Linked DNA regions of Homo sapiens: regions 2, 3, 4, 5, 6 and 7 are each linked to region 1. The links come from fine-mapping of genetic effects on gene expression. Tissue or cell type: whole blood. Region 1 holds a variant in brackets; each other region holds the start of a gene. Each region is shown on its reference strand, or each on the opposite one.

Region 1 (4,000 bases):
CTGAGGACTCTTGGTTAATTTAGGACACGGAAATGTGTACAAGAGAGAAGTCAGTAACTGGCAAAAATGTATGTATAAAGGAGGAGGAAAAAAATGCAAGGATTACTGAATACGGGAAGAAAATAACTAAGTTTTTACTTTTCTCACACAAAACACTTATCTGCTCTCCAGACCCCAACCCTGACATAATTCCTAAACAAAAAACTTTTAAGAGCCCCTGCTCAAGAGTTTTCAGAACAAGTCTCAATTCATTTTTTTACTTCTCTAGCATGTGTGCCATGGCTGACTGAGTAAATCTGGGGTTGCCTGAAGAGGTCACTGAGTGCATCCTCGGCTTTAAACAGTTTCATACACAACCACTTCAGAGAGGTGAGAGTTCTCTAGTTTTTAAAAAGACCACTTCAGAAGAACAAGCTACAGTCTCACTAAATAGACCATTCTGATGACTAAACTCTCCTTGCCAAAAGGAGAGTAAAGACCACATCTCTCCTTTAAGTCTAACTTAAATTCTTCAAGCAACACTTTAAATCCTTTGTTTCATTTTCTTCAGACCGGGAAGAAAATGGAGGCCAACTGAGGGCTGCAGGGCTGCTCTGCCCTCTGGCTCTGTCTCCTTCTCCCCAAACTTACACACAAACCTAGAATGTTCCTTCCACACTGAATGAAGCAATGAGGTGTGAAACCATTATTTGTTTATTCTGGGAGTGACTCACCAATCAGTATAACTTTGCACCCTCCTCATAGGGAACTGATTTCCACCATTCCCATCAATTTGTTTATTAATATGGTCTGTTATCCTTGTTGAGATTAGATTTGTCTAAAACTGAAGGATGCCAGTGGTCATAACAGCTCACAGCTTTCCAAAAGTGTTCCTTGTCACTTTCTAAAGCAGACACTCTTGCAATCTATTATTAGCAAATAATTTCCCACTTTTTTTTTTTTTTTGCATCTTTTAGCTTCTCACCATTTCTCCTTGAAATTTCAACAGTGGCAGCTCGACTTGAACTTGAGTCAGGTGGCGGCCAGCACCCTTACTCTGTCCTTTAGTCTTGCCCTATTCTAACAAATTCTTCCTTTCTCTTTTGGCTGTTTTCAGTTTGTTTATTCTTTGGACCATTTTTTTTAAAGTAAGAAATCCCTCTTCTATCCTTGGTGCTGGTCATCTGTTCTCTCCCTTTTCCCAAGTGAAGCTACGATAGCTTCATTTACCCTTCTTGTAAATCTTTGAAAGTTCTATTTTGCACAAGTTGCATTTCTTTTTTCTGTCCTTTTTACTTTGTGTCTTTGCTACTCTGTCTTCAACAAATTATGTCTATATATGTTCCATCTAACCCTCAAGGCCATTCTGTGATGCAGGTTCAGTTACTATTGCCACCTTCAAAAGAGGAAAGTGAGGCTCAGAGAAGAAAAGCCTTGCCAGAAGCTCCAGGCCAGGGAGGAGAGGGCCTGGACCTGTCCCTTCTGAGGTGTGCCTTACCCACAGGGCACTCTCCGCCCCTGCTGCTCACCCTGCATTTCAGCAACTCCATTTCCTCCTCTCGGCCCCACTGCTTCTGTCTTTTCATTTCCTGCTGTGCACTCCTTACAGTCCTTTGCACTGATGACTTATTCCCATGGAATAATGTGATGAAATATGGTACCCAGGTTATTCCCTTTATCCACGAATTCCCCTACCTTTTTATATTGTTTCCTAATGTTCTCTACATACTTCATTTATTTAATGCT[G/A]TACACTACAAATTAATGAACAGCCTGTCACCACATATGAAAGCTGGCTGGTTTCCTTCCAGAACCATGGAGGGTGGTCTCTAAACTCAGCTCTGTGAAGAGCCCTCTCTTCCCTCCATGTCTCCTTGGGCACTTCGGTCTTGTGGAATCCTCTCCCTCCTTCACTTCCTCTTCTCAAGCCTCTCCTTTGTGTCGTGCCTGGTTTGTCATGTAGGCTTTTGCATCTTTTTTGCTTTCTTTACAGTAACCTATCACTCCTGTGGCCTCTAGCCCCACTGAGGAGCATTCAATCTCCCAAATCATCTCAGTGCCCACGTCACATGGCTGTTCCCGCCTGTCCACAGGGCTGCATCAACTGCTATTTACAAGCAAAGCAAAGAGGTTTTCTAGGGTTTTTAAATTTCACAATTCTGAAATCATATTTTCTAAATTACATCCTGAAGGAAAAGTAGACTGAAAATCATGTCAAACATGATAAAGGGCAGGGCCAGGACCCATGGGCTATGACAAACCCGCCCCTGACTCCAAGGTGACACCTGTGCTGGGGGCAGCTGGGACCGAGGGCAGGACTTTGAACCAAAAGACAGCTCTGGGAACCCATCAGTAATGCCAACCAGATACTGGGTGATCTCCCACCCAGGAAAACCCACCAACAATATGACGTCCGTAAGGGACAGGATACTGACACTGTTTTGAAGGCACGTGTGCTATTCTTCACTCTCCAGGAATCGGCCTGACTTTCAGTTCTCTAAAGATGCCCTAGCCACGATGGCTCACAGCCTCTAAGGGCAGCTGCAGGGATTCCAGGGAGAGCCCATCTCTTTCTCCACAGCGACCCGAGCTGGCCTCCTCACTCTGACATCCAGGCTCTCTGTTCATTTACATGGTTAATGGATCATTTCTTCTGGTTCAGTCCCTGAGCCTCTGTGTTCTTGGGCAGGGTGTGAGCATCTGTTTGCTCCTGTGTTAAGCAGGAAGAACAGTACCCTTGGCGCTGGGTGCTTCAGGGACTAAAAAAATCAGGGAACATCACCACCCAATGACTATTCCTGTGCCACTTTTGCAAACTTTTATCATATCTATGTACTACTATTGACTTGATGTTTTTATTTAAACTGATTTTTTAATTTATATGAATGTGTTTTGAAAGGAACCCTCGTAGTGGTACAGTGCATGGTAAAACCAGTATCACTTGCAATACATAGAAGACAATCTCAAAAATAAATACATAAATTAAAATGAAACATGATCCTTTGCATCCCAACTTTGGAAAACCCTGAAATGATATATGTATCTTTCTTTGGTAGAATAGAGTAGATAATTCACAAGTTCATTTCTCTTCCCCTCTACTTTCCACATATAGTAGCCATTTTCCAATAGGGTAAAATAATTCATAAATGTACTTGTTTTCTGGATTCATCTACACCAAATGGCTTTAGCCACCATCTTTATCTGTTTGTGCCATTAACTGTGCTGCTGAGTTAAAAAAAAAAAGAACCATTATACCTAGTCCACTTGGTTTCTAAGACACATAAAAAACATACAAAATATGTTTTCTTTACTTTTTCTTTTTTTTTTTTTTTTTTGAGATGGAGTCTGGCTCTGTCATCCAGGCTGGAGTGCAGTGGCGCAATCTCGGCTCACTGCAAGCTCCGCCTGCCGGGTTCACGCCATTCTCCTGCCTCAGCCTCCCGAGTAGCTGGGACTACAGGCGCCCACCACTACGCCCGGCTAATTTTTTGTATTTTTAGTAGAGACAGGGTTTCACCGTGTTAGCCAGGATGGTCTCGATTTCCTGACCTTGTGATCCGCCAGCCTCGGCCTCCCAAAGTGCTGGGATTACAAGCTTGAGCCACCATGCCCGGCCCAAAATATGTTTTCTATACATGTAGATAAAATTCAGTTATCACATTTTCCCATTATTGCATTAGGATGTCCTATAGACATACAGTTGTGATTCTCATAAGCCTGAGAATTTTACATACATGTTCCCTCCTTGGCTATGGGGGCTTATGTAGCTGACCCACATTGATCCAGTCTACCTCATTTTACCTGTATGTCCTTCATATTCTTTTATGCCAATAGGTAGCTCTCAGTATCACAGCTCTTTCTCTTTTTAAAGAAGAAAACAGGTATTCCAGGGAACTGTTGACTCATTAGCTCATTAGAACATGGTATAATGGAGCGAGAACTAGTTTTTCAGTCAGAAATTCAGTTCAATTCTGACTCTGTCATTTCACCTTGGTTAATTCACTGAACTTCTCTCCGTCTTTGG
Region 2 (4,063 bases), not on the chromosome of region 1:
GCTTATACCACCTGGGTGTGGTCCTTCCCAAGGCTGGCAGTAAGCATGGAGTCCAGGAGGGCTCTTTTATCCAACACTCTACCCTTGAGCGCCATGAGCATTATTCCTGAAATCATCTCAGGCTCTGACACTTAGTAGTGATTTCCTCCTTTGGGTTTCACCCTGGAGCAGATGTGTACAGTCAGGAAAATGTCACTCAACCTGTCTCTCCCCATCTGACAGGTCAGCAGGAAGCACCTGTCCTACTGGGTGTGTTTTCTTTGCAAGGGCCTTCCTCCTATAAGAGAAGGTATCTTCTCTCTCTCTCTTTTTTTTTTTTTTTTTTTAATTGAGGCAGAGTCTCACACTGTCACCCAGGCTGGAGTGCAATGGCCCGATCTCAGCTCACTGCAACCGCTGTCTCCCAGGTTCATGCGATTCTCCTGCCTCAGCCTCCCGAGTAGCTGGGATTACAGGCGCACGCCACCACATTTGGCTATTTTTGTATTTTTAGTAGAGAGGGGGTTGGTTTCCGTATATTGGCCTGCCTGGTCTTGAACTCCTGACCTCGTGATCTGCCCGCCTCGGCCTCACAAAATGTTGGGATTACAGGTGTGAGCCACCGCGCCCAGCCAGTGTCTTCTCTTAATTAAATCTTAAACCCTACATTTCCTAGTGTTCATTGCAGTAGAATCTGGGCAATGTATTTTACCAAGGACTCTTGTTTTTGAGCTTCTTAAATGGCCGGGGAGGTAATTAAATGCCATGGGTCTAATGACACACACACTTTCCATTCCAGCGGCTCCAAGTTCCTTCTCTGATAAATAGTTTAGCAATTATCTCTTTGGCCACCACCTGCCTCCCCCGGGAATGGTCTGCCAGGGTGATCTGTACTCCCCTGCCATTTTCCAGAGTCTCTGTAAATTAGGAAGAATTCCTGACGTCTCGGGTAACGTAGCTCTTTATGGGAGTGGAACGTGGCTATCTTTCCTCACTTTAAAATAGAAATTCTGGAGACTAAGCACCATCAAGGTGGCCATGATTTACCAAAATGCCAGCTTTTCAAAGTTCTTAAGTGTACAACCTTCCAGACTGTAGACCGAACAAGGGTAAAGGAGACAAAATGTATTGTCATGATTTTGCACGGCTAGTCTCTGGCAGAGTCAAGACCTCACATTCACTCGAGGGCTCAAATTTAGATATTGACATCTCCAAGTGAAACTAGAGTCCTAAGTGTGTGAGTCAGGTCACTTACCAACTGTAAATGAACATTTAAAATATGCCACAATGCACTCGTGGCACTGCTTACTTTTTATCTGTTTTACATATCAGGAATCAAAAAGAAAAATAGTCTGATCCTGACCCAACCTCTAGGAGGCCCAGGTTCAGGGTCCCGCCACCAGCAGGAGGAGGGGTGAAAGGTGACTAGAAGAGCGGCGTTAGAACTGCAGGAATTTCAAGGTCGCCTCCTAGGCCTCAGCGGTGGAGGCTAGCACGAAGGCGGGGCTGCAGCGCTGCCTGAACCAAAAGTACGCTGCGCTGAGGCGGGGCACGGAACGGGCTGGACTTCGGCTGGATGGGGCCTAGCGGATGGTTGGGCCGCGGCGGGATGGGGCGGGGCTTCGGGCGGGATGGGGCGGGGCTTCGGGCAGGATGGGGCGTGGCCGCGGCGGGATGGGTGGGGTCTGGGTGGGATGAGGCGGGACTTCGGGAGAGATGGGGCGGAGCCGTGGCGAGGCGCTGCAGCAGAAAGGAAATGCGCTGGCGGGGAGACCGGGGTTGGTCCCTGGCGGGGCAGGGGGCGGGCTCAGGCCGGAACTCCAGAGACGACCTCAGCCAACTGCTCCTGCGCCGGGCGGGGTCGTCGCCGCCAGCGGCTCCGAGCGCCGGAAGGGCCAGGTCTCAGGGCTCCTGGAGCTGCAGGCGGCGGGAGGGGCTACAAGTGGGTCCATTTTTTAGTATCTTTTTTCCTCCTTTTCTTGGCTCATCCCCAAAAGCGGAAAGTTTAGGGCAGAGCGACAGTCAGACCCATCCACTATGCCCCAACACGTGCAGGGCTGCGAGGGCGCCCGTTCCTCCCGGGACCCCAAGCGGTTTCTGCTACGCCTGTACAGACGTATCTTCCCAGAGTGAAAGTTGATGTTTAGCCGTTCCGAAGTTGGTGCTTTGTGGGAAGGAGAACAGCGGGAGAGCCGTAAGGAACGCAGGCGTCCTGACGTGAGGAACGCCTCTTAACACGCCCCGTGGCATGGAGTTTGACAGGGCCCTGGATCCCTGCGTTCACCCCTCCTGGAGTCCTGGACGCCCACCTGGGAGCAGCGTCAGGGCCGTGCCACTTTGACCCACGTTAAACGCATTGCATCCTCATTTCTGTGTCCCATCTAGATGCTTGACTCAGTGATGCAGAACCTTTCAGAGTTAGCTGGAAGCCACAGCCCTGCCTCTTGATGCAGCCTGGATCCAGCCGGTGTGAAGAGGAGACCCCTTCCCTCTTGTGGGGTTTGGATCCTGTGTTTCTAGCCTTTGCAAAACTCTACATCAGGGATATCCTGGACATGAAGGAGTCCCGCCAGGTGCCAGGTATGTGGCTAGCCACCCTGGGATGCCCTGGGCTGCATCTGCCACCCTTTCCCAAAGTCTCAGAAAGCTGGGATTAGAGGCTTTTAGGAGAGCCTTCCCTGCTGCAGGCTTTGAAAGGGACCTAGCCTGGACCTTCGCATGAGTTCATTTATTTGCAAGGTAAAAAAAACAGTCTAAATCTTTTTTTTTTTTTTTTTTTTTTTAGTAGGTGTTTGGGGGAGTAACTTTTGTACTGGGGTTTTTACCTCCATTTAGGGTCTTTCATGCTTAAAAATGCTCATTTGTTTTTCTTTGGCCCTGCTCCTGTTGGAGAGATCGCTGGGCCAGATATTCCTAGGCCTGGCTCCTTTCCTAAATGTGCCACTTACCTGGTCCGGGCATGTGACTCACCTTCTGCAAAGTCTGGGTTTCTTTGTAAAAATGGAGCTTAACCCTGTGTAATGGAATCTTTTGATTCCTGATATGTAAAGGGGGTTTGTTTTCTTTTGAATTAAGCAGAATCAAAATATTATAAACTCCCTGAGAGGAAGAACATCATCTGTCTTGTTCACCTTTGTAATCCCAGGGCTTAGAACAGTGCCTGGCATATAGTGGGCCCTCAAATAGAAATAGCAGTTGAAGCAACAAGGCATTATACATGTAAAGTTTAAATTTTCTTTTTTTTTTTTTGTATTAGAATAGTGGCTACTAGAGATAGGCTTATCTTACCTAAAAATATAACAAGTATAGTTTGGGGTGGATTTAAATAATTCACGTAGCTGTGTAATAATTCACAAATAGCCACATGTTTACTGTGCTATTTGAGAAGTTTGGTTAAACTTTCTTTGCTATTTTGAGTGAAGCTTTCCAGTCAAGGTCCTTCTGAATAACAAACTATGAGTTAGAAGTAGTCAAGAATCTCAAGCATCCACAGTTTTAATGAGATAAGGTTTTGTTTGTTTCCAGTTAAATGTACAAATATATTTGGATGACCTTATGCTAATGCCTTTTGTACAGATTTTTCGCCACACCTTTATTTCCTAATTATTGTTGGAAATGGTCTGTGTTTTCCCTTGGAAGGCAGCCAACCTCCTCCACAGTTTTCCATTTTCCAGTCTGGTTTTCTTCATAGCTCATCTCTTCAGGAAGAAATTAATTCACACCAAATTCTAGCCTTGCTTAATGATCTTCTGCAGGTGAGAAAACAGGTACCAAGGACATGACAGGGGCTTAACTCTACCTGTAGGCAAAAGACTTTATGATGTGTTAAAAACAAACCAACAAAAACAGGACCAGTGATCTTTGATTTATCACTGGTGAGAATGTTTCCAAGGTGTTTTAAAAATGAAACCTCACGGTTAAAGCAGACATCAGCTGACAGATTGGATACTTTTAGACCTGGGGCCCCCAACCCCTGGGACCACAGACCACTACTGGTACATGGCCATTAGGAACTGGGCCACACAGCAGGAAGTGAGTGGTTGGCCAGTGAGCATTACTGCCTGAGCCCCACATCCTGTCACAT
Region 3 (4,074 bases), not on the chromosome of region 1:
GAGGAGCCAAGCCCACGAGGCCAGTCGCGGGACCCACACCCCCCTTCCTTCTCCCAGCACCTCGTCCTCCATGCACCCGGCCCCCGGGGCTCCTCGTCGTCGTCGTCCCGGCTCGTACCGCCCCCCGTCGGGGGCTCCACCCCCCCGCCTGCCCCCGCCCCCAGGACGGCCCCCTCCCCACCGCGCGCCGCCTGCGCCCTCTGCCCCGGCACGGGACTCTCTTTGGCCTCCGTTCCCCGCCCAGAAGCGGCGGCGGCGGCGGCGGCAACGGCTGCGGCGGCCCCAGCAGGAGCAGCAGCGGCGGCGGCGGCAGCGGCGGCGGCAGCAGCGCCGCCCCCGGCCCCGCCCCGCCGCCCGCCGGAGCCCCACGCCCCGCCCGCCCGCCCCGCCGCCGGACTGCTCCCCCCGAAGCCCACCACTAAGCCCTCCCACTCCCCGGCCGCGATCCGCTCGAATCCAGCTCCGCTGGGCCTGCTGTCCGTCCCTCACGCCCCTTAGGACCCGGGGTGGGGGAGCCCTGGGGTTCGCGGCCATCCCTCTCCCTCCTTCTCCAAGGGCCGGGGGATTGCCCCTGATCCCGAAACCCGGCCCCGTAACCGGAGCCTCCCTCCTTCCAGCCCTCGGCTTCGCTCGCCGACCCCTTGCCTCCAGGCCTGGCGCGAAGCGGGTGGAGGGCTTGCACGCCGGATCTCCCCTCTGGCTTGCCGGTGCTAGTATGAATTGCCCCCGATCTCATCTTCCTTCAATTTAAGCCCCCTCCCCGCCGCGCCCGGCCCGGCGGCCCCCGCCCCTAGAGCGAGGGCAGCGGAGCCAGGGCGCTCCGAAGTCATCCCCCGCCTTTTTTCCAGGGACTCGGATAATTGCCCCTGCCCCCATCACAGCACTCCCACTCCCGAACCCAGGCCCCGCCGCCACCTAGGGGTACCCCTTACCCTACGATTCCCGCACCCCAGCGCCGGGAAGAAAGCAGCCCTGAAGAGCACCCGTCGCACCTCCCCTCTGAGGTTGGAGGGCATTTTCTCCCGGTCTCTTCAACACTTCATCACGGACACCCCCCCCCCCCAAAAAAAAGCCTTTTCTCGCCCTGCCCTGCTAGCCAGCCTCCCTTCGGATCGTCGGATCCTTGGATCGGGGGTTGGAGTCAGGTAGTTAACAAGACCATAGCCTCCACCTCCCTTTCCGAGGAGTGGGGTAATTCCTATGGTTTCCCCCCCAGGATCAACCGACCCCCGTTTCCATGGAGACCCCCGCCCAGCCGGGAAGAAGACTCTCTTGGATCGTGGCGAACGAGTCTCACCTGGCTAAGAGAGAAGGGGGTCGAGAAGGGGGTAGGGCAAGTCAGGGGATGGGGTACGAAGGTGGGAAGTGGAAGGGAGCTGTCCCGAAGGGAGGGGCGAAGACATACCCAGCTCCAGGGAGCGCTACGTCCGGGGACACGAAGAGGACGGCGCCCCCGGGGGGCAAGCCGAGCGGCCGCAGGGAAAAGAAGGAACAGGGTTGGAGAAAGGCTTAAGATAGAAAGAAGCGGGTGGGGGGATACGAAAAAGCCGGGGAGTCAAAAGGGGTGGAGGGATTGGGGGAGAGAGAAAAAAGACGCACCTGTTCCCGGGTCGGCTCCGCGGGGAGGCTCAGGCCGCCACCCGGGCTCCCTCTTACTCCCTCTTAACCGCCACCCGCCTAATACTGCCCCGATCTGATGCCCCCCTCCGCCCCTTATCGCCACCGACCTCCTTCTCCTCTCTCTCGGCGGCGGCGGCGGTCGGACTCTAGGAACTGAGAGGAAGAAGGGAGGGCTCAGCAAAGCGGAGGAGAGACAGAGCCACACACTGGCAGCAGCCGCGGCGAGCGAAAGAGTGAGGGGGAGAGCGGTGTGTGTGTGTGTCTGTGTGCGAGCGAAGCCTGGTGGAGTGGGTGCCGGTCGCAGGGCTCGACGGGAAGTGGAGTCCGGCTGGGTCCGCGGGCGGCGCCAACCCCCGCTCCACCGGACTACAACTCCCAGAATGCGGCCTACGCGGGTGGGGGGGAATGGGGAGGAGGAGGCGAAGGGAGGGAGCGAGCAAGAGAGGGAGGGACGAAAGCAGGGAGCAAGCGGCGGCGAAGGGGGCAGAGCCAAGCAGCCCCGGTGACACTGGGAGGGGAGGAGAGGAGGAGGGGATCGCTGAGAGGACCGAGCGGATTCCGGAGAGGGAGGCAGCAGTGGCTGCAGCAAGCCGGGCAAAAAGCTAGACTCCTGGGAGAGGCGGAGGCGCTCAATCTGCGGGGCTGCAGGAGCCCCACGTCCCCCCCCACCTCGACGCCCCTCGAAGGGGGAGGTTGAGGAAGGGAGAGGGTCAGTGAGCCGCGGCCAAAGGGTTCTCTCTCTTTCTTCCAACGTTCTCCACCTTATGCCCCGACCTGACTTTCTCAGGCCACTGGTGCCGATCCAGTGTGCAAATCTCGAGACCCCAGATCTCCTCTGCCGGGCAGCGGAGAACAGACGCATTCAGTCCCCTTCTCCCAGGGGCCTGAGGGAGGCTCCCCTTGCAGGCAGGGCGTGACTCCCCCTTCTTCCCGCTCCCCCCCCCACCGTCGTCGCCACCCCCCCATCTCCCTCCCCGGAACCCCTCCCCTGAAGCCGGGGCTCGCCTCTCTCTCTCCCCGCCAAGACACGGAGTCCTTCTGGGGACGACTACCCAGCCCCCTCCCTTATACTGGGCCCCTACCCACCAGTATCCCCTTCTTAGCGTTGCCCCCTCACCGAAATAATGGTGGGGGCGACCCGAGTTGGACTGGTGGCTACTTTCCCTCCAAGGCTAGCCGTCCTTCGCCACGCCGACCCTGTGTAGAAATAGAGAAGCATATTAATACTCCCGTCCCCCCTCCCCCCCAGATTTGAATACCCGTGGAAGTGGCTCACAAGAAAGAGGGGTTGGTAGTGGAAGTGAGCTAGGGGTGAATCCCAATCTTCAAACCTCATCCCTCCCATGGAAATCCAGGTATTCGCCTTTTGCTTAAAAGCCATTAAATCGCTTGGGTGGGGGGTAAATTATCTAAACCCCAATGTCCATGCGACTCGAAGCGACGCTACCTTGTAGGAATAAGATACGAACTAGGTTGCCGCCACGGGAAGGAAAGTATCCCCCACCCCCGTCGCCGTCCACCCCCAAAAACACATACCCCTAGGAGAGTCAGATGGCTGAAGAAGGGGGAAGGCGGTGGGAGTGCTGGAGAGTAAAAGGACTGTGGCGGGGAGGGTCCGCGGCCCCCACTACGAGAGCAGAATCCAGATGCTAAGAGGTGGGTGGGGGGTGCGGCACAATCGCAGACTGTGTCTTTCCTCGCTTTTCCCGGAATCGCCGCCCGATCACCGTCTAACACTCGGAGTTGCTTACCACTCAGTCCCCTAGCCCCATTTGTGCGCGTGAGGCGGCCAGAGCCCGGGAAGCCCGGGCACAAACTCCGCGGAAGCTGGCCTTCGCTGCCGCCGCGCCGCCGCGGGCCTCCCTCCCTCCGCTCGCGGCCCCGCCGATCTACCTTCGCCCCCGGCCGAGGCCAGACCCCGCTCACAACTCCACGCCCCTACTCCACCCCCGGCTCTCCCTCCCCTCGCCCTCTCCCTGCGGGTCCGGCCCAGCCCCTAGCGCCGCCCCGCCCTACCGCTCGGTCCAGAGCCCAGCAAGTGCCCCGAACTCGCCCCCCGCCCCCACGCCCAGGCCAGTCTGGCCAGGCCTGGTTTCCCCCTCCCGCCGCGCCCCGCCCCCGAATCCACGTCCTACTTCGCCACCCAACTCGGCCCGGTCGGGGTTCGGCCCGCGCCCACGCCACCGGAGTCCCCGATTCGGTCCGGTGTACGGCCACCCACCCCGCCCTTGCCTGGGTGCTGGCCTGGCCCGCTGCCTGCGCCCGCCGAGCCGGCCCAAGCGCGCGGTCCGGGTCCGGGTCCAGGTGCCGGCCTCGGTCCCGGCAGTGTTGCCGCGACTCGCCACGCGGGCTCGTTCCACGCAAGATCGGAACCCACGCGGGGTGGGGGCCGCGGGAAGCAAGTTTCTTTATCCTCCCCCCGCCCCCGCCGCAGGGCCGCACCGTTCCCCCACC
Region 4 (4,072 bases), not on the chromosome of region 1:
CTGCAGCACCACGGTCAGCGGCCGCCGGCCCTCCTCGTCGCGGCGGAAGAGGCGGTTGAAAGTGTGCGTGTCCGAGCGCCGCGCGCGCCCCGGCTCAGGCTCTTCCGCGGGCCCCATCGCCTCCTCCGGGGCGGCGCTCTCGGGCGCGATGAGCAGCTTGGTGAAGCGCTTGGTGATCTTCACGGAGCGGGCGTTCCTCTCCTTCACCCGAGCGTGCAGCTGCAGCACGTGCTCCCGGTACTTCTTCTTGTACTCTGGGCGCAGCGGGAGACAGCGCGGGGACAAGGGTCGGAGGTGGGGCAGGCTGCGCCCTCCGGGAGCCCACGCCCTCCCCGGCCCTGCTCAGGCCTCAGTTTCCTCTACGGGACCACAGCCCACGCCCCTGGCGGCCCTCCCACCCCGGTCCTCCCCGGGACCCTCCAAGTGGGGTTGGGGACACTCGTGCCCCCCCAGCGAGAGACCCACCGGACACGGAGAGCAGCGTCCCGGAGCCGAGCCCGAGCCCTGGAAGGGAAACTGGGGTGAGGTTCCGCCGAGGGCGGGAACAGGGGAAGGCGCCACGGGGGTCCGAGTCACCCTGAGGAGCACGCAGGGTCCTACCCCTGGGGCCCGCGAATTTGTGGATAAAACGCGCGGGGGCCGGGGACCGCGCCGGGGCTTCTCCGGGAAGCGGGAAGGAGGGCAGCCCAGCCTCTGCCCAGACAGGAGGGACCTCCCGCGCAGAACTCACGCTGCAGCCGCCGCTCCTGGAGCTGCGCCGCCACGTCGCGCGCGTCCGCCCTCTTGAGGGTCTTGCGGGCCACCTCCAGGGCAGGCTCCGGGCCGTAGAACTGGGCCAGCTGCTCCGCGAGGTCCACGGCGTCCGCGCGCTCCAGCCGCCCCCACGGGATGCTGCGTCCGTCCGGGCCCACGTCGCGCAGCTTGTGGCGGAAGCGCTTCAGCTGCTCTTGGCTCAGTTCCTCCAGCGCAGCCAGGAGCAGCTCGCGGGCCACCGCGAGGCGCGGCCCCGTGCTGGAGGCGGGCGGGCGCGGGTCATCGGGGAGCGGCCCTCGGGTGACCCCCGCCCGCCCCCGACTCTGGCGCCGGAGAACCCACCGCGGGCAGGGCCTCAGGGAGTCCCGGGCCAAGCATCGTCTGGATCCATGGGGTGGCGGGAGGGGGCAACGGGGAGTGACCCCAGACTTTTCCCTCCCCCGTCCCCGGACCCGGGTCGGGGCGTCTTGGTGTTCTTCGCCCTCTGAGGGTGAAGTGGGCACTGGCCGCCGCTGATCTGAGCTCTGGGGGGCACCTTCCTCCCCTGCACCTCCCTTTCTGCTTCTGTCCTTCCACACCCCAGGACAGGTCACATGCCCCGAGGGAGGTATTTCCAAGGAACCCTGAGCTCTCTTTCCTCGCTTTCCTTCTTTTCCCTCTCTTCCCGATCCCGGAGCAGAACTGGCCTCTTTGGCAGCAGACACTGCCAGGCCCAGGCTGTATTCCTGGGCCCCCACCCCTGCCACACTTTGGTGGGGCCCAGCTTGGGGCCTTGCACCAGGGCCTGAATCTGAGCCCCTGGTGGGGAACAGACTCCACAAATGCCCTCTGTGGGGAGGCAGTGCTTGGCTCCTGAGCCTGGGAGTGAGGGTGGGGGAAGGATGTGGACAAGGGTGGAGAGCCTGAGGAAGTCAGCGGGTGAGGTGGAGGCCCCAGAGGGCTGAGACCAGCCGGTTCCCAGTGACCACCCTGGGGCCAGCACTCACCTGGAGCAGGGGGCCTCTGGCTGGTCCATGGGGTCTCTTCCTCCCTGGGTCTAGCACTCCGGGGCAGAGGTGGGGATCAGAGAGGTGATTCCTTCACAGGCTGAGCTGGAGCCAAGTCTTAGAGGTTGTCCAGCCCGGTCCATTCCCCGGGTCCACACACCGCAGCTCAGCTGGCACGAGATGCTGTTGGGCACCGTGGCACACGCAGAGCATTGCCCTTTAAGGGCTCCGTTTGGTGACCTTTGATTTTCTTACTCCTTTATCCCATTAATGTTCCCCAAGAACCCCTGGGTGTGGCATCGGGGCATGGCTGTGAGCAGGCAGCTTCAGAGCAAGGTGGGTTGTGTGAAGGAGGTGGCTGGCTCAGAGCCAGGCCTTCAGCTGAGGCCTGGGGAGAGGTTAGACTCTGAAGGCAGGGGTGAGGAAAGACTTCCAGGTAGAGGGAACAGGGGGGACAGCCAGCAGCACGCACCATATATGGGAGGGAAGGCAGTCTCCAGGGAGACGCCGGGCAGGGGTCTGCACTGCAGCCTCCCCACCCGACCTGAACAGCTGGCGGGCAGAGGCTGGACGTCAGGGGTGTTCGAGACCCCTGGGACCAAATGTGAGAGTGTGTGGAACGGGGGGGTTAATATGTGGAAATGAGAGGTGCTGGGTAAAATAAGGCTGAGACCTACTGGGCTGCATTCCCAGGAGGGTAGACATTCTAAGTCACAGGATGAGACAGGAGGTTGACACAAGATACAGGTCATAAAGGCCTTGCTGATAATGGTGTAAAGAAGCTGGCCCAAAACCACCAGAACCAAGATGGCAATGAGAGTGACCTCTGGTCATCCTCACAGCTCATTACTCTAGTTACAGTACATTAGCACACTAAAAGACACTCCCACCAACACGATGACAGTTTATAAATGCCATGGCAAAGTCAGGAAGTTACCCTATATGGTCTAAAAGGGGAGGAACCCTCAGTTCTGAGAATTGCCCACCACTTTCCTGGAAAACTCATGAATAATCCACTCCTCGTTTAGCATATAATCAAGAAATAACCATAAAAATGGGCAACCAGCAGCCTTTGGGGCTGCTCTGCCTATAGAATAGCCATTCTTTTATTCCTTTACTTTCTCAATAAACTTGCTCTCACTTTACTCTTTTTTTTTTTTTTTTTTTTTTCATGGAGTCTCGTTCTGTCGCCAGGCGGAGTGCAGTGGCACGATCTCGGCTCACTTCAAACTCCGCCTCCTGGGTTCAAGCAATTCTCCTGCCTCAGCCTCCTGAGTAGCTGGAATTACAGGCATGCACCACCATGCCTGGCTAATTTTTGTATTTTTAGTAGAGACGGGGTTTCACCATGTTGGTCAGGCTGGCCTTGAACTCTTGACCTTGTGATCTGCCTGCCTTGGACCTCCCAAAGTGCTGGGATTACTGGTGTGAGCGACCATGCCTGGCACTTTACTCTTTATGGATTTGACTCAAATTCTTTCTTGCATGAGATCCAAGAACCATGATGTCTGGATCAAGACCTCTTTCTGATAACAGTTTGGCTGTGTGTCCCCACCCAAATCTCATGTTGAATTGTAATTCCCAATGTTGGGGGAGAGACCTGGTGGCAGGTGATTGGATCATGAAGGTGGATTTCGTCCTTGCTGTTCTTGTAATAGTGAGTAAGTTCTCATGAGATCTGGTTGTTTGAAAGTGTGTAGCATGTCCCACTTTGCTCTCTCTGTCCTTTTGGCCACATGAATATTTGCCTGCTTCCCCTTTGCTTTCTGCCATGATTGTAAGTTTCCTGAGGCCTCCCCAGAAGCAAAAGTCTGTACAGCCCACAGAACCAGGAGCTAGTTAAACCTCTTTTCTTTATAAATTACCCTGTCTCAGGTATGTCTTTACAGCAATGTGAGAATAGACTAAGACAAATTATAACAAGTAAAGAGATTGAATTACTAATTACAGGGAAAAAAAACTTTCCCACAAAGAAAAGCTCTCAAGGGAATGCTTCCCAACTCATTCTCTGAGGCCTGTGACACTGATACCAAAACCAGGCAAACTCATCAGAAGAAAACTGTAAACCAATATCCTTCATGAATACAGGCATGAAAAATCCTTAACAAACTACTTCAGAAACAGAATCTATTAGCATATAAAAACAATTACAAACCATGACTAAGTGTGTTTTCTCTAAGGAGTGCAAGGTTGGTTTAACATCCAAAAATCAATTAATGTAACATATCATAGTAATACTTAAGAGGACAAAAACTGCTTGATCATCTCAATAGAGACAGAAAGAATAGTCTACATTTTCCAACACCTCTTCATGGTTAAAAACACTAAGCAAA
Region 5 (4,074 bases), not on the chromosome of region 1:
ATCTGTGCCTTCCAGGCTCAAGCAATCCTCCTACTTCAGCCTCCCAAGTAGCTGAGTCTACAGGTGCTCACTACCACACCTGGCTAATTTTTCGTGTTTTTTGTAGAGACGGGTTTTTGCCATGTTGCTCGGGGTGGTCTGGAACTCAAGCGGGAGTAGTTCGTCATGTTGGTCTCCCATTTTGGGAGTCAAGTGGATTCTCCCACCTTGGTCTCCCAAAGTGCTGGGATTACAGGCACAAGCCACTGCACTGGGCTGTCATACACTTTTAAATGACCAGATCTCAGGAGAACTCACTCGAGATCATAAGGAGAGTTCCAACAGGATGCTGCATAACCATTCGTGAGAAATCTGCTCCATGATCCACTCCCGCTTCCCCCAGGTCCCAACTCCAACATTAGGGATTACAATTCAACATGAGATTTGGCAGGGATGCAGATCCAAACCATATCAATCAGTAACCTAGGAAACTTGACGGCATTTTCAGTGCCCTTAGCTAAACTCCTTAACCTATCTAAGCTTAAATTTCCTTATTTGATAAGGAAGGAAAATAATATTTATATTATCTGTCTCTCAGAGTTGTGAGAAGAAATCTGACAGTACTTTTTATTTGTATTTATCATCATCATCATTATTATTCATTCATTGCTCAACTGCATGGACAGTACGTTGAAAATAGTAAATTAGTATCACCTCCCTAATCACTTCCCCAATGTTGTTGAAATGTGTCAATATTTGAATATATACAAACTGAGTGATTTCTACAGTTAAACCTCAAGTAGAGACCAAGATCAATAATACATTAAATTTTAATAACTTGGATTAAGTCGTGTTTGGGTTAACGATAAATATCAAAAGATAACTATTACACCTATTCCAGATAATAAATGTATTACTTTCCATAATATCTGGAATAGGTATAATAGTTATCTTTTGATAGATTCCTTGATGGAGAATCTGGTGGCAAGGGGAAGTTAACGTTTTTAGTAGGAAACTGAGTTTTTCCTTTCAGAGGTCGAAGAGGGAAACTGGTTCCCTGGGGCCCTGAATAAGGCCCCAGTAAAGGCAATATTCAATAAATACCTGGTGCTGGCAATTTTTAATTTGGTTGAGTGATGTTTTTACTCCTAGTTATTTTGATTCTAAATGACTTTATGGAGATACATGAACATATGTCCAAAGTCTTTGGACAACACTTTTCATAGCTGATTATATCCGAAGCATTTAATGTTCCTGTTGAAGTGAAGAGCTTGAAATATAGGGCCTTTTGAGACTATTCCAAAGCAGGTGATAAAAACAAAACAAAACAAAAATCCAGGAGCAAAAAACGAAGGATCAGGGTGGGTGGCTCATGATTGTAATCCTAGCAGTTTGGGAGGTTGAGGCAGAAGGATTGCTTGAGGCCAGGGGTTCGAGACGAGCGAGGGCAACATAATTTGATCCCTGTCGCTATAAAAAATTAAAAAGCTCAGCCAGGTGTAGTGACCGACGCTTGTAGTCCCAGTTACTCTGGAGGCTGAGGCAGGAGGATCGCTTGACTTTAGGAGGTCTAGGCTGCAGAGACCCATGATTGTGCCCCTGTACTCCAGGCTGGGTAACAGTGAGATCCTGTCTCAAACAAGCAAACAACTCCCACCCCTAAAAAAACGTGCACATGACCTTAAAAGTGTAGGAAGATTACATGATAAGGAGAGTCAGAGAAAAGAGAAATTAGGACAGGAAAGCACTACAAGCTATGTATGTTTATTTTATAATTGAGTCTTTAAGGGTACGGAGTATTCGTACTCAACTTGTACCCCCAGTGTCTAGTACGCTGCTTGGTAAACAGCTGGCAATCAAGAAATGTTTGCTAAATTTTAAATGAATTGATGGGGGCGGAACTTCAGAAAGTAAAGCCTGACTCGCTTTATTTCTAAGAAGGCAGAGGAAGTAAAAATCTAGTTTTCCGTACTCTGTCCCCTTTTTAATCCTTCTCTGAATGGGTGTCCTTGATTCACTGACATTTCCTAATTAACCAAGTTCTGCCAAGTTTCACATGAAACTTGGGGAACCGATTTCATTCCCCCAGTATCACCCTGTGGCGCCACCTTCCGGAGCTGTGAGGAAACTCCGGACTTCCCCCCAACACCGCCCCCTCCCTCCACCCTCGGTCTCCGCTTTCTGCGCTCTGCCGCGTTGGTTTTCGGAGGTGTCTGGGCGCATGCGCTTTGGACGGGCCGCCTAGCCTAGGAGAGACTACAATTCCCAGAAGACAGTGCGAAAGAAAAAAAAAATCCCGCGGTCCGTGGGGGTGGGAGAAATAAACGCTCGCGAGAGAACGAGGTTCAGGCGGCTGCACGAAGGGGGTGGAGGGGGGCTGGAGAGAGTGAGGAGGAAGGGGAGGAGGTGCCGTCCCACAATACCAGGCGGGAGGGCGGGTAGGCGGTTTGTATCCGGGCTGTGAGGTGCTCGGAGCCTCGGCGGACCTTGCTGCCTCTGTCTCTTTAACGCGAGAGGAAGCGATGCAGAGGGGTGGAAAATGGCAGAGCTGCAGATGTTACTAGAGGAGGAGATCCCGTCTGGCAAGAGGGCGCTGATCGAGAGTTACCAGAACCTGACTCGGGTGGCAGACTACTGTGAAAACAACTACATACAGGTGAGGCGCTCTGGCGGCCGGCGGGCGCTGGCCGGGTCGAGGACCCGCCGGAGTGACCAGCCCACTGGGCGGGGTGGGGAACTGCCCTGACCTCAGCGGCTGCCACCAACCCGAGCCCCTACCGCAGCCCCAACCCCAGCCCCAACCGGGGACAGAGCGAGTGGCCGGGCTGAGGGAGTCGGGCTGCGATACAGGAAGTGGCTGTGGTGGTGGAAACCGATAGAAGGGGAGAGAGAAAATGGGCGAGGGAGCCGGGAGCCCGCCGCTGCCGCAGCCCGGCGCCCCCCTCGCGTCCGCTTCCCCCAGGGCCCGGCCACCGGGGTCGCGCGCCCCCCAGGTAGCCTCCAGTCCGCAGGGCTGGAGTCCCGGAATACCCCCGAGCTGCCGCCGCGCCGCCTCTCTGCGCCGGGAGAGGAGGTCCAGGACGGGAGAGGGGAGAGGAGAGGGCAGGGACGAGGCTGAAGCCGCAGAAGGGAGAGGACCAGCGGGGTGTGTGTTGTGTGTCGGCGGAGGGTGGGGTGGGGGCGATTATGTCAGTTTCAGCCCCCAGAGGGTGTGTCTTTTATTTATTTATTTATTTAAAAAAAATTTGTCATGAGTCACATTACACCGACCTCCCGGAGGAGAGGAGGAAGCGGGTGTGGGGAGTGAGGGAGGGCGTTTGAGAGAAGTTCATCTTAAAATTCCTTTAATTGAAGGTTTGTAAATCTGTCTGCTTGTCCATTTTCAAGTCGGGTTTTTTTTATTTTTTTCCCCCTCTCATCGTTTTCACTTCCGCCCCACCATAATGTATTCTAAGAGGTTGTTAGGGCTGCTATCATTAATTATCAAACACGAATTGTTCTTAACTCCTTGGAAAAACGGCTTACCCTCCCTTCTCCCAAAAGTTCTTGAGCTGTAGGCTTCATAAGTAACTTAAAATAGACTGGTGTCATCGCCGGTTGCTTATTTTCTGAGGTTTCTCTCTTAACAAGCTAAGTAAATGTATAGTATGTGAATCCAAATACAGAAACGAACAGAGGTAGCCTCTGAACTACAACGTAAAAATATCTGTTATTGTAAATTAGAAAACTCTTGGGACTTTGTGACAGATGCTTGTTTGTTCGTTTCTCTTTGGATGATTGGAAGTGAATTGTGTGTGGTAGTTTGTTTTGAAGATCTTTAACTGTGTAAACCAACAGTTTGCGCTAGAAACAAAGTAGCACAGTCCTTTGTATAAATATAAAGGCACCAGGAATGCTCTTGCTTTTGGTAAGGCAAGGCCAAAACGTGCTTTGAAAGGTTAGGGTTATTGCAATTCAGAACTAAATTGTTTATAGAAATGTCTCCCATGTGATTATAATTTTTAAGAACCGATGTTTCTGTGTTGGCAAATGCTTCCCCTCTTTATTTTTAGAGGGAGATGCTGTTTTCAGAATGTTTTGAATATTTCTCAGTTT
Region 6 (4,074 bases), not on the chromosome of region 1:
CTGACAGCTGTCTCACTCACAGCCAGATGTACACACCCAATTCCAGATGTGGGGAGAATCGAGGGTGAGGCCAGCATCAGCGGCCCAGGGGAGAGCTGGGAATTACAACCCTCACGCCCCAGGAATTTAGATTTGGCAACTGCAAGACCCTAGGATCCAGCTTGCCACGCACAGTTTCTCATCTTAAAGCTCCCAGTCACGGCATGGTGGGGTCATTACGGCCCTTTACAGAAGTCGAAGCTGAACCTCAGAGATGTTAAGTAACATTGGCGACGTCATCCAGTTAGGAAGTGGAAGAGTGGGTACCCAGCCTGGTCCACGTGGTTCCCATGCAGTGGGCCACGCCTACTTCCATAATATGTTTGGGGAGCGGGAGAGAAAGGGGCTCACAGCTAGGCTGGGAACAGTGGGTCCCCAGATCTCCTCCATCTACATCCTGACCTTTGGCTGCCCCCGTCTGCCCAACTTTCATGTGTCCAGAGATATGAGAATGAGGTCTCCATCAGGACAGGGCTGTGGGGAGCTGGGAGGGGAGCTCCCTGCAGCAGTCGGGGAGCAGATAGGAGCATCCTAGCTCTCTGTGATTGCCCTGGACAGGAGCCCTGGACCTCCCAATGAGAAAATGACTTCCGGCAGGCAGGGATCCTCCTATCATGAAGAATATTAGGCCACCTCACACCCCCTCTTCTCCTAAATCAGGAGACTGTCCTTAAATCCAGCTCCACCTGGGACTTCCTCAGTAACCTTCAGCAAGACGCCTCTCCTCTCTGGGTCTCACCTTTCCCATCTATAAAATGGGCTGACAACGAAGCCACCACTAAAGGGCCACTGGAGATCCCACTGCAATATTGCAGGTGAGAGCGCCAATGTACAATAGCGGGGTTCAGCGGGTCACTGTAGGTTTTATCATTCATTCAGCAAATATCTACAAGGCCTTCCTTCCTCAAGCACTTCGATTCTCCGGGGCCAGTGCTTTGAACAATAGCAAAAACGAAGGGCTCCTGACCCCAGGCGTCCACCTCCTCCCGCCCTCCTAGACCTCGAGGATGCAGAGACCCTCTAGCGGCCGCTGGGTCTCCCGGGGTCCCGGTGCCTCCGGAGAGGTGCCCGGCTCCGCGGCCGCCAGGTGGCGCGCGTGCTCCCTTGATCGCCTCGTGTCCCGGAGGACTCCGAGAGCGCACCGGGGTCTCCAGCGCCCCTCCCCCGGGCTCCAGGCAGGCGGTCCCCAAGGAGCTGCGCGTTCAAGTACCAGATGGGGATTACCTGCGAGATCTTTTTGCTTCGGGGTTTCTGGTCCCACAATCGGGGAAAAAGGGGGCGATTGGGGACCCTGCCCTAGTCTCCAAGCTCTGGGAGGAGCCTCCCCCCTGTGCTTTCCGGCCTGGGCGATGTCCTAGTGTCCGCTCGGCACAGGGCCAGAGCTCGGGCGTGCGGGCCCCCGCCCCTCCCACGGGTCCGGCTCCTTAGCTCCGGCTCGGGTTCCTGCGCCGACCCCTCCCCACTCCTACCCGGGCGGAGCCCAGCCCAGCCCGGATCCGTTTCAGGACATTCGCGGCCGCAGCTAAAGATAGGAGAACAACTCACTATCGGCTAAAAATACGGCCCCCAGCCCCGGTGGGGATGCTGGGCGGCGGGGCACCCCTGGGTCTCGGGAGGGGGGCGGGGGCCCGGACACAAAATGGAGGGCAGAACGGGGAATTCGGGGTCGGGATGCGTTGCGCCCCCACGGACCGTGGCGGGCACGGGCGAGGCTGCGGGAACCCAGATGCGGGTGGGAAGCCCCATGGAGCCCTAGGAGCCCTCGAAAGGAACTGAGTGAGGTGAGAGGCAGAGCCAGGGCGCGAGCTGGGGCGGGGCGCCACAGAGATGGGCCTCTCGGGGGACCCCCGCGAAGCTGCGAAAATCCCAGCCCGAACTCACCGTGAGGCGCGCAGACGGCAGACCGGCGGACAGCAAGGTCTCAGGAGCTGGACAGCGCGGCGGCCGGACCCGACCGGCGGTGAACTTACAGAGTGCACCGCGGACCCCGCAGCCCCGCCCCGGCCCGCGGAGCCAATGCCGGGGCCGCGCCAGCCAAGCCCCTCCCCATCCCCGCCCAGGCCCCGCCCCACTCCGGGCACCGCCCGGGGCTCCCGGCGTGGGAGGTGCCGCTCCCGGGTCCAGCGGTCGCGCGCGCCCTGGAGTCCTGTCCTGGTTCTGGCGGCTGAGGGCCGGGTGGCGCAGGCGGCCTCCGGCTGTGCCCATGGGAACTAAAACCTTCGGTTCTAGAAGAGCCGGGGGAGAGGCTCCGGGAAGACCGAATTCTTCAGAAATCGCAGAGAGACCTTGGACCGGATCCTTCCCTGCAGGGCTGCGTCGGGGAAGCGCCGGCACAAGTATATTCAGCGACTTCCTTGGAAGCGCCTACGTTAGAATACTACAAACTTACAAGCTAGTTGATCAGTTTACCTCCCACTAGAAAAGACAGTATGGGAAGGCAGAGGCCGCGTGGCCTGGACCCCCGTCTTTGCTGTCAGGCTTCCAGAGTGAAGGTGGGGCTCATATTCAGACTAGTTCCTGGTCCATTCATTCTTTCAGTCAGTCAGTCAGTCATTCCTACAGGGCCAGAAACTTTTTTTTTTTTTGAGACAGAGTTTCGCTCTTGTTGCCCAGACTGCTCACCGCAACCTCCGTCTCCTGGGTTCAAGAGATTCTCCTGCCTCAGCCTCCCGAGTAGCTGGGATTACAGGCATGTGCCAGCACACCTGGCTAATTTTTGTATTCTTAGTAGAGACGGAGTTTCTCCATGTTGGCCAGGCTGGTCTCGAATTCCCGACCTCAAGTGATCTGCCCGCCTCGGCCTCCCGAAGTGCTGCAATTACAGGCGTGAGCCACCGCGCCCGGCCCAGAAACATGTTTTGAAGGGCAGGCACCGCACAGGGTGCTGGAGACAGACTGAAGGAAACTGCACCTCTCAGTGACTCAAGAGAGATTTGTTGAGTATCTACCAAGTGCCTAGCGCTGTTCTTGTCCCTGGGGATTCAGCCTCTGGATTGGGACCTGCAGCCCAGAGAAGGGAAATGGGGGAAATCCAAGTTCCCAGGTACATCATGATACCCTTCCAGGTGGGTAAGTGCTAAGAAGAGTGGGGCAGAGGAAGTGGTGGGTAGTGACGGGGTGGACAGACCTCACTTTCTAGAGGATGACAGCTATGCCAGCTCAGTGTGACCAGGATGGTTGGCTTCAATGCTGTCAGTGTGGGAAGGGCTTTTAGGGAGGCAGAGCCGGGAAGACCTCAGTGGGGGAGGCAGGATGCTGGGGGTGGGGGAAGATGCCAGACAAGCTGGGAGGTCCGGATGGGAAGAAGGGGATCATGGTAGGTAAAATAACAGCCCCCCTAAATATGTTCACATCTAGCCAGGTGCTGTGGCTCATGCCTATAATCCCAGCACTTTGGGAGGCCAAGGTGGGAGGATTGCTTGGGTCCAGGAGTTTGACACTGACACCAGCCTGAGCAACATAGTGAGACCCTGTTTCTACAACAAATAAATTAGCCGGACATGGTGGCTCAAGCCTGTAGTCCCAGGTACTCTGGAGGCTTAGGTAGGAGAATTGCTTGAACCTGGGAGGTTAAGGCTGCAGTGAGCTGTGATCACGCCACTGCACTCCAGCCTGGGCAATAGAGCAAAAACCCATGTAAAAAAAAAAAAAGAAAAGAAAAAAAGCCCACATCCGAACCTGTGTAATCTATGAATATGTTTTGTTACATGAGAAATGGAAATGAAAATTGCCAATGAGGGCTGGGCGCCGTGGCTCATGCCTGTAATCCCAGCACTTTGGGAGGTCAAGGCAGGTGGATCACGAGGTCAGGAGATCGAGACCATCCTGGCTAATATGGTGAAATCCCGTCTCTACTAAAAATACAAAAAAAAAAAAAAATTAGCCGAGCATGGTGGCAGGCACCTGCAGTCCCAGCTACTCGGGCGCCTGTAGTCCCAGCTACTCAGGAGGCTGAGGCAGGAGAATGGCATGAACCTGGGAGGCGGAGCTTGTAGTGAGCCGAGATCGCACCACTGCACTCCAGCCTGGGCGACA
Region 7 (4,074 bases), not on the chromosome of region 1:
GCGGTTGGGAGCCTGCCCTGTCCGCCCGCCCTGCTGATCCCCCTACGTGTGCGAACACTCAGGCACATACACGGGAAGTGTCCTGGGAGGAGTGTCCAGTGCGGGTTGAGGGGACAGAAGGTGGGGAGACTGGGAGAGGAGGGCAGGAGGATTGGGGAAGTGAGGGAGCCCTTGGGGGGCGGCTGATACCCCGAGTCTGAGACAGGGGGGCTGCGTGGGATGGAGGGACAGGCGGGGCAAGAAGCCTCAGGGCCTCAGTAGCCCTTCCTCACCAGTGACCCGGGTCCCCGTCTGCATCCCTCCCCCATTCCCGCCCCCCACTCCAGTTCTAGGCTGCACCACCGCCCAGCCCCTTCCCGCAAGCTGGGCACCCCAGCCCCTGGTTCTCCTATGCGTTGCCTCGCGCCCCGCCCAAGGTCCGTCCTCCCTTCCCACGTGGGCTCCCCCTCCCCACATGCGCCCGCCCCCCGCTCCGGAGCTCATCCCCTCTCCTCGTCCCCACGTGCGCCTCCTCCCCTCCTGCTCCAGAGTGCACCCCTGCCCCGCCCCACCATGCGCCCCCTCCCCTCCAGCTTCTGAGTGCATCTCCCTCCGTCCCCACGTGCGCTCCCTCCCCTCCTGCTCCGCAGCGCACCCCCCCTCCCCGTCCCCACGTACGATCCCCTCCCCTCCCACTGCGGAGCGCACTCCCGCCTGTCCCCAAGTGCGTCCCCTCCCCTCCCACTGCGGAGCGCACCCCCGCCCGTCCCCAAGTGCGCCCTCTCCCCTCCTGCTCCGGAGCGCACCTGCTGGATGTAGTTGACGAACTTGCACATGAAGTCGCCCAGCACCCAGCCGGGCAGCGGGTACAGCAGGGCCGTGAAGGGGACGCAGCACAGGAGGAAGGTCACGTCCGTGGCCGCCAGGTTGGCTGCGGTGGGGATGCGCGGGCGCTGGGCGTGGGCGCCACTGGCCGCGGGAACCGCCCAGCGCTCCTGGCCCTGACCCCTGGCCCCCACCTTGGTCCGAGTGACCAGCAGGATGGCTCAGGGAGGCCCCCCCCTCCCCCAGCGCCCCTGGCCTCCTCGGGCGGAGAAGTTGGGGCGCCTTCTAGTAATTCCCCCTTACATCTCAAACATTACGCCTCCGGCTCGGATTTCCTGGCCATTCCGGCAGAAATCGGTTCTGCTGGGCCCTGTCCGGGCTGGGGGAGCCTAAGCAGGCCCCTGACCCTCTGAGCCTCAGTTTCCACAACTGCAAACTGGAGACAATGGTGCCGGCCCAGCAGCCACCGACTGGGCTCACAGCTGTGTGTGATAGGGGACCCCAGGACACAAATGCATAAACAGGCTCAGAGAGCCACCGGGGCAGGGGTCGCAAACTAAGGCCCGCGGGCCAAGCCAGCCCCTCCCCCAGCCCTTTGTTCAGCTGACACCGAGCCGTTGGCCCGCGCTGCACCGGGGCGAGCCCCGCGAGTGGCCAGGTCGAGGTTTCCATGTGCCACACTCCCCACCCTCCGGCCCGCCCGGGCCCGCCCGCGCTGGAGTTTGCGACCTCTAGCCTCAGGTGCAGGGACCACAGGGAAAAGATTCGAGGTTGGGGGGGACCCCTGCAGGGGACAGAGCCGGGTCCGAGAGGGCCCCGATGCGTCGCGAGAGGGCGCCCCAGGCCGCTCGGCCCTCGGAGCCCCCGGGACGGCAGCAGGTGCGGCGCAGCGCCCGCACTCACCGATGTAGAAGTTGGTCACGGTCCGCATCGGCTTGTGGCGGCAGATGACGTAGATGACCAGCGAGTTCCCCACCAGGCCCAGCAGCATCAGCGCCGCGAAGAAGAGCGGCACGAGCCAGGCGTCCACGGCCCGCGGCGAAGGGACTGGGCCGTCCGAGGCGTTGGCGCCACAGCCCGGGCAGCCGGAGGCGTTGGCCGGTGCCCCCCAGGACGCGTTGGGTCCGGACGTAGCCACGGTGTGCATGGCCGCGCGCACCTCCTCCTCCCGGCCGCCCTCCAGGATTGCGCCCTGGCACCGCCCCGGGGACCCCTCCGCCCGACCGCCCGGGGGCTGCGCCTGTGGAACTCAGGAAGGGGCTCGGCTGGGGTCCGCAGGGTCCAGAGGGCAGCTGTGCTGGGCTCGGCGGCTCCTCTGCCGGCGCCGCTGCGGCCGAGCGTTTATAGCCCGTGCCCCCCTCCCCTGGCCTTGCCTTCCCGCCTCTCCGGCAGCCGCTCGCCACTCCCTCCCCTGCCCACGCGCCCTCTATTCACCCAGCGGCAACCCCCCTATTCCCTCCTCCCGGTGCAAGGTCGGAGTGAGAGCGCGGGAGGGGGCTGGAGGGGGCGGAGCAGGCAGGGGGTGGGCCGCGTGGAGGCCGCTGTGGACCTGGAAGGACCGACCTTAACCAGCGAGTAGACGCTCAGCCCGGACTAGGAGCCCAGCCAAGGCGCGAACTCTAAGGCCTGTGAATATGGGAAGGGCTTTGACCCTCGTAGGGGCTGGGGCTCCAGGGGGTGGGCCCAGCCTGGCGGGGAGGCCAGCCCTCAGCGGAGACCCTGAGTGAGGATAGCTTGGGTTTGTCCCCAGGACCCTGGAGAGCCATGGAAAGTTCAGGGCAGGTGAGGGACGTCCCCGATCTGGTGGTTTGGGACTGAATGTGTCCCACATGACTGACAAGGGGTGTCTGATACCCGCAGGGACACTAGCAGCGGGAACCAGGTGGAGGGCACCTTGCAAACGCCACAGCCTCATTATTATTATTATTATTACTGATTTATGTATTTATTTATTTTTTTGAGACAGAGTTTCGCTCAGGTCGCCCAGGCTGGAGTGCAGTGGCTCCATCTCGGCTCACTGCAAGCTCCGCCTCCCTGGTTCACGCCATTCTCCTGCCTCAGCCTCCCTAGTAGCTGGGACTACAGGCGCCCGCCACCTCGCCCGGCTAATTTTTTGTACTTTTAGTAGAGTCAGGGTTTCACCGTGTTAGCCAGGATGGTCTTGATCTCCTGACCTCGTGATCCACCCTCCTCGGCCTCCCAAAGTGGTGGATTAGAGGCGTCAGCCACCGCGCCCGGCCTTTTATTATCATTATTGAGACAGGGTGTCGCTCTGTTGCCTAGGCTGGAGTGCAGTGGCATGATCTCGGCTCAAAGCAACCTCCGCCTCCCGGGTTCAAGCAATTCTCCTGCCTCAGCCTCCCGAGTAGCTGGGATTACAGGTGCCTGCCACCATGCCCGGGTAATTTTTGTATTTTTAGTAGAGACCAGGTTTCACCACGTTGGCCAGGCTGGTCTCGAACTCCTGACCTCAGGTGATCCACCCTCCTCGGCCTCCCAACGTGCTGGGATTACAGGCGTGAGCCACTGCTCCCGGTCCAGCTAATTTATTTTTAAATTTTTTATTTTTTATTTTTTTGCAAATAAAGTTTTTTTTTTAATTTTATTTATTATTTTATTTTATTATTATTATACTTTAAGTTTTAGGGTACATGTGCACAATGTGCAGGTTAGTTACATATGTATACATGTGCCATGCTGGTGTGCTGCACCCATTAACTCGTCATTTAGCATTAGGTATATCTCCTAAGGCTATCCCTCCCCCCTCCCCCCTTAAATTTTTTTGTAGAGACAAGATCTCACTAGGTTGCCCAGGCTTGTCTTGAACTCCTGAGCTCAAGCAGTCCTCCTGCCTCAGCCTCCCAAAGTGCTGGGATGACAAGCATGAGCCACCCAGCCTGGTCAGCACAACCTTGACTCCATAATCCCACAGCTGGAAGTGTACCCCAGGATGACATCCAGGAGGTTCCCCCAAAGTCCATCCTGCAACAGAGTCCAAGACATTTGGTCATCATGGAGTAATACACAGCGAAGAAAAAGGTGCTTCCATTTGCATAAAAAAAGACAAAAAAGGGAGGAAAAAAAATGAATAGGCCGGGCACAGTGGCTCATGCCTGTAATCCCAGCACATTGGGAGGCCGAGGCAGGTGGATCACTTGAGGTCAGGAGTTCCAGACCAGCCTGGCCAACGTGGTGAAACCTGGTCTCTACTAAAAATACAGAAATTACCCGGGCTTGGTGGAGGGTGCCTGTAATCCCAGCTACTTGGGA

Evidence for each region. PIP is the estimated chance that this variant, and not a neighbour inherited with it, causes the effect. A credible set is the group of variants that fine-mapping cannot tell apart.
Region 2: it holds the start of STN1, and the variant in region 1 is the best candidate, but not a certain one, in a credible set for the expression of STN1 in whole blood (TOPMed, PIP 0.76).
Region 3: BCORL1 starts here. The variant in region 1 is the best candidate, but not a certain one, in a credible set for the expression of BCORL1 in whole blood (TOPMed, PIP 0.51).
Region 4: it holds the start of NLRP6, and the variant in region 1 is the best candidate, but not a certain one, in a credible set for the expression of NLRP6 in whole blood (TOPMed, PIP 0.76).
Region 5: it holds the start of ABI1, and the variant in region 1 is the best candidate, but not a certain one, in a credible set for the expression of ABI1 in whole blood (TOPMed, PIP 0.52).
Region 6: it holds the start of CDC42EP2, and the variant in region 1 is fine-mapped to the expression of CDC42EP2 in whole blood (TOPMed, PIP 0.94).
Region 7: KISS1R starts here. The variant in region 1 is the best candidate, but not a certain one, in a credible set for the expression of KISS1R in whole blood (TOPMed, PIP 0.58).

Annotation. Positions count from the first base shown.
Region 1 is chr7:50,328,384-50,332,383 of GRCh38, reverse strand. The region is part of intron 3 of IKZF1 (IKAROS family zinc finger 1); the gene reads right to left. Among named protein-coding and RNA genes, the nearest start is that of IKZF1, 26 kb to the right of the region's middle. The variant G/A (reference allele first, on the strand shown) is at 1,726.
Region 2 is chr10:103,915,958-103,920,020 of GRCh38, reverse strand. It overlaps STN1 (STN1 subunit of CST complex), which reads left to right and starts at 1,837. Exons shown (of 10, transcript NM_024928.5): 1 at 1,837-1,921; 2 at 2,365-2,559. The coding sequence starts at 2,427. RefSeq lists a silencer at 1,526-1,875 and enhancers at 1,616-1,910, 1,541-2,186, 2,046-2,375.
Region 3 is chrX:129,980,416-129,984,489 of GRCh38, reverse strand. It overlaps BCORL1 (BCL6 corepressor like 1), which reads right to left and starts at 1,855. Exons shown (of 14, transcript NM_001379451.1): 1 at 1,728-1,855. RefSeq lists a silencer at 790-1,026.
Region 4 is chr11:276,266-280,337 of GRCh38, reverse strand. It overlaps NLRP6 (NLR family pyrin domain containing 6), which reads right to left and starts at 1,931. Exons shown (of 8, transcript NM_001276700.2): 1 at 1,740-1,931; 2 at 731-1,011; 3 at 466-504; 4 at 1-254. The coding sequence starts at 1,768. RefSeq lists an enhancer at 81-631.
Region 5 is chr10:26,859,308-26,863,381 of GRCh38, reverse strand. ABI1 (abl interactor 1) reads left to right here and starts at 2,424. Exons shown (of 11, transcript NM_001012750.3): 1 at 2,424-2,635. The coding sequence starts at 2,519. RefSeq lists an enhancer at 2,182-2,381 and silencers at 2,702-2,791, 2,902-3,051.
Region 6 is chr11:65,312,801-65,316,874 of GRCh38, reverse strand. It overlaps CDC42EP2 (CDC42 effector protein 2), which reads right to left and starts at 2,009. Exons shown (of 2, transcript NM_006779.4): 1 at 1,921-2,009. LOC105369344 (a long non-coding RNA gene) reads left to right here and starts at 2,186. Exons shown (of 3, transcript XR_007062727.1): 1 at 2,186-3,104. RefSeq lists silencers at 1,052-1,211, 1,382-1,511, 1,972-2,351.
Region 7 is chr19:915,380-919,453 of GRCh38, reverse strand. It overlaps KISS1R (KISS1 receptor), which reads right to left and starts at 2,121. Exons shown (of 5, transcript NM_032551.5): 1 at 1,708-2,121; 2 at 786-910. The coding sequence starts at 1,951. RefSeq lists an enhancer at 1-547 and silencers at 1,541-1,740, 2,141-2,230, 2,241-2,380.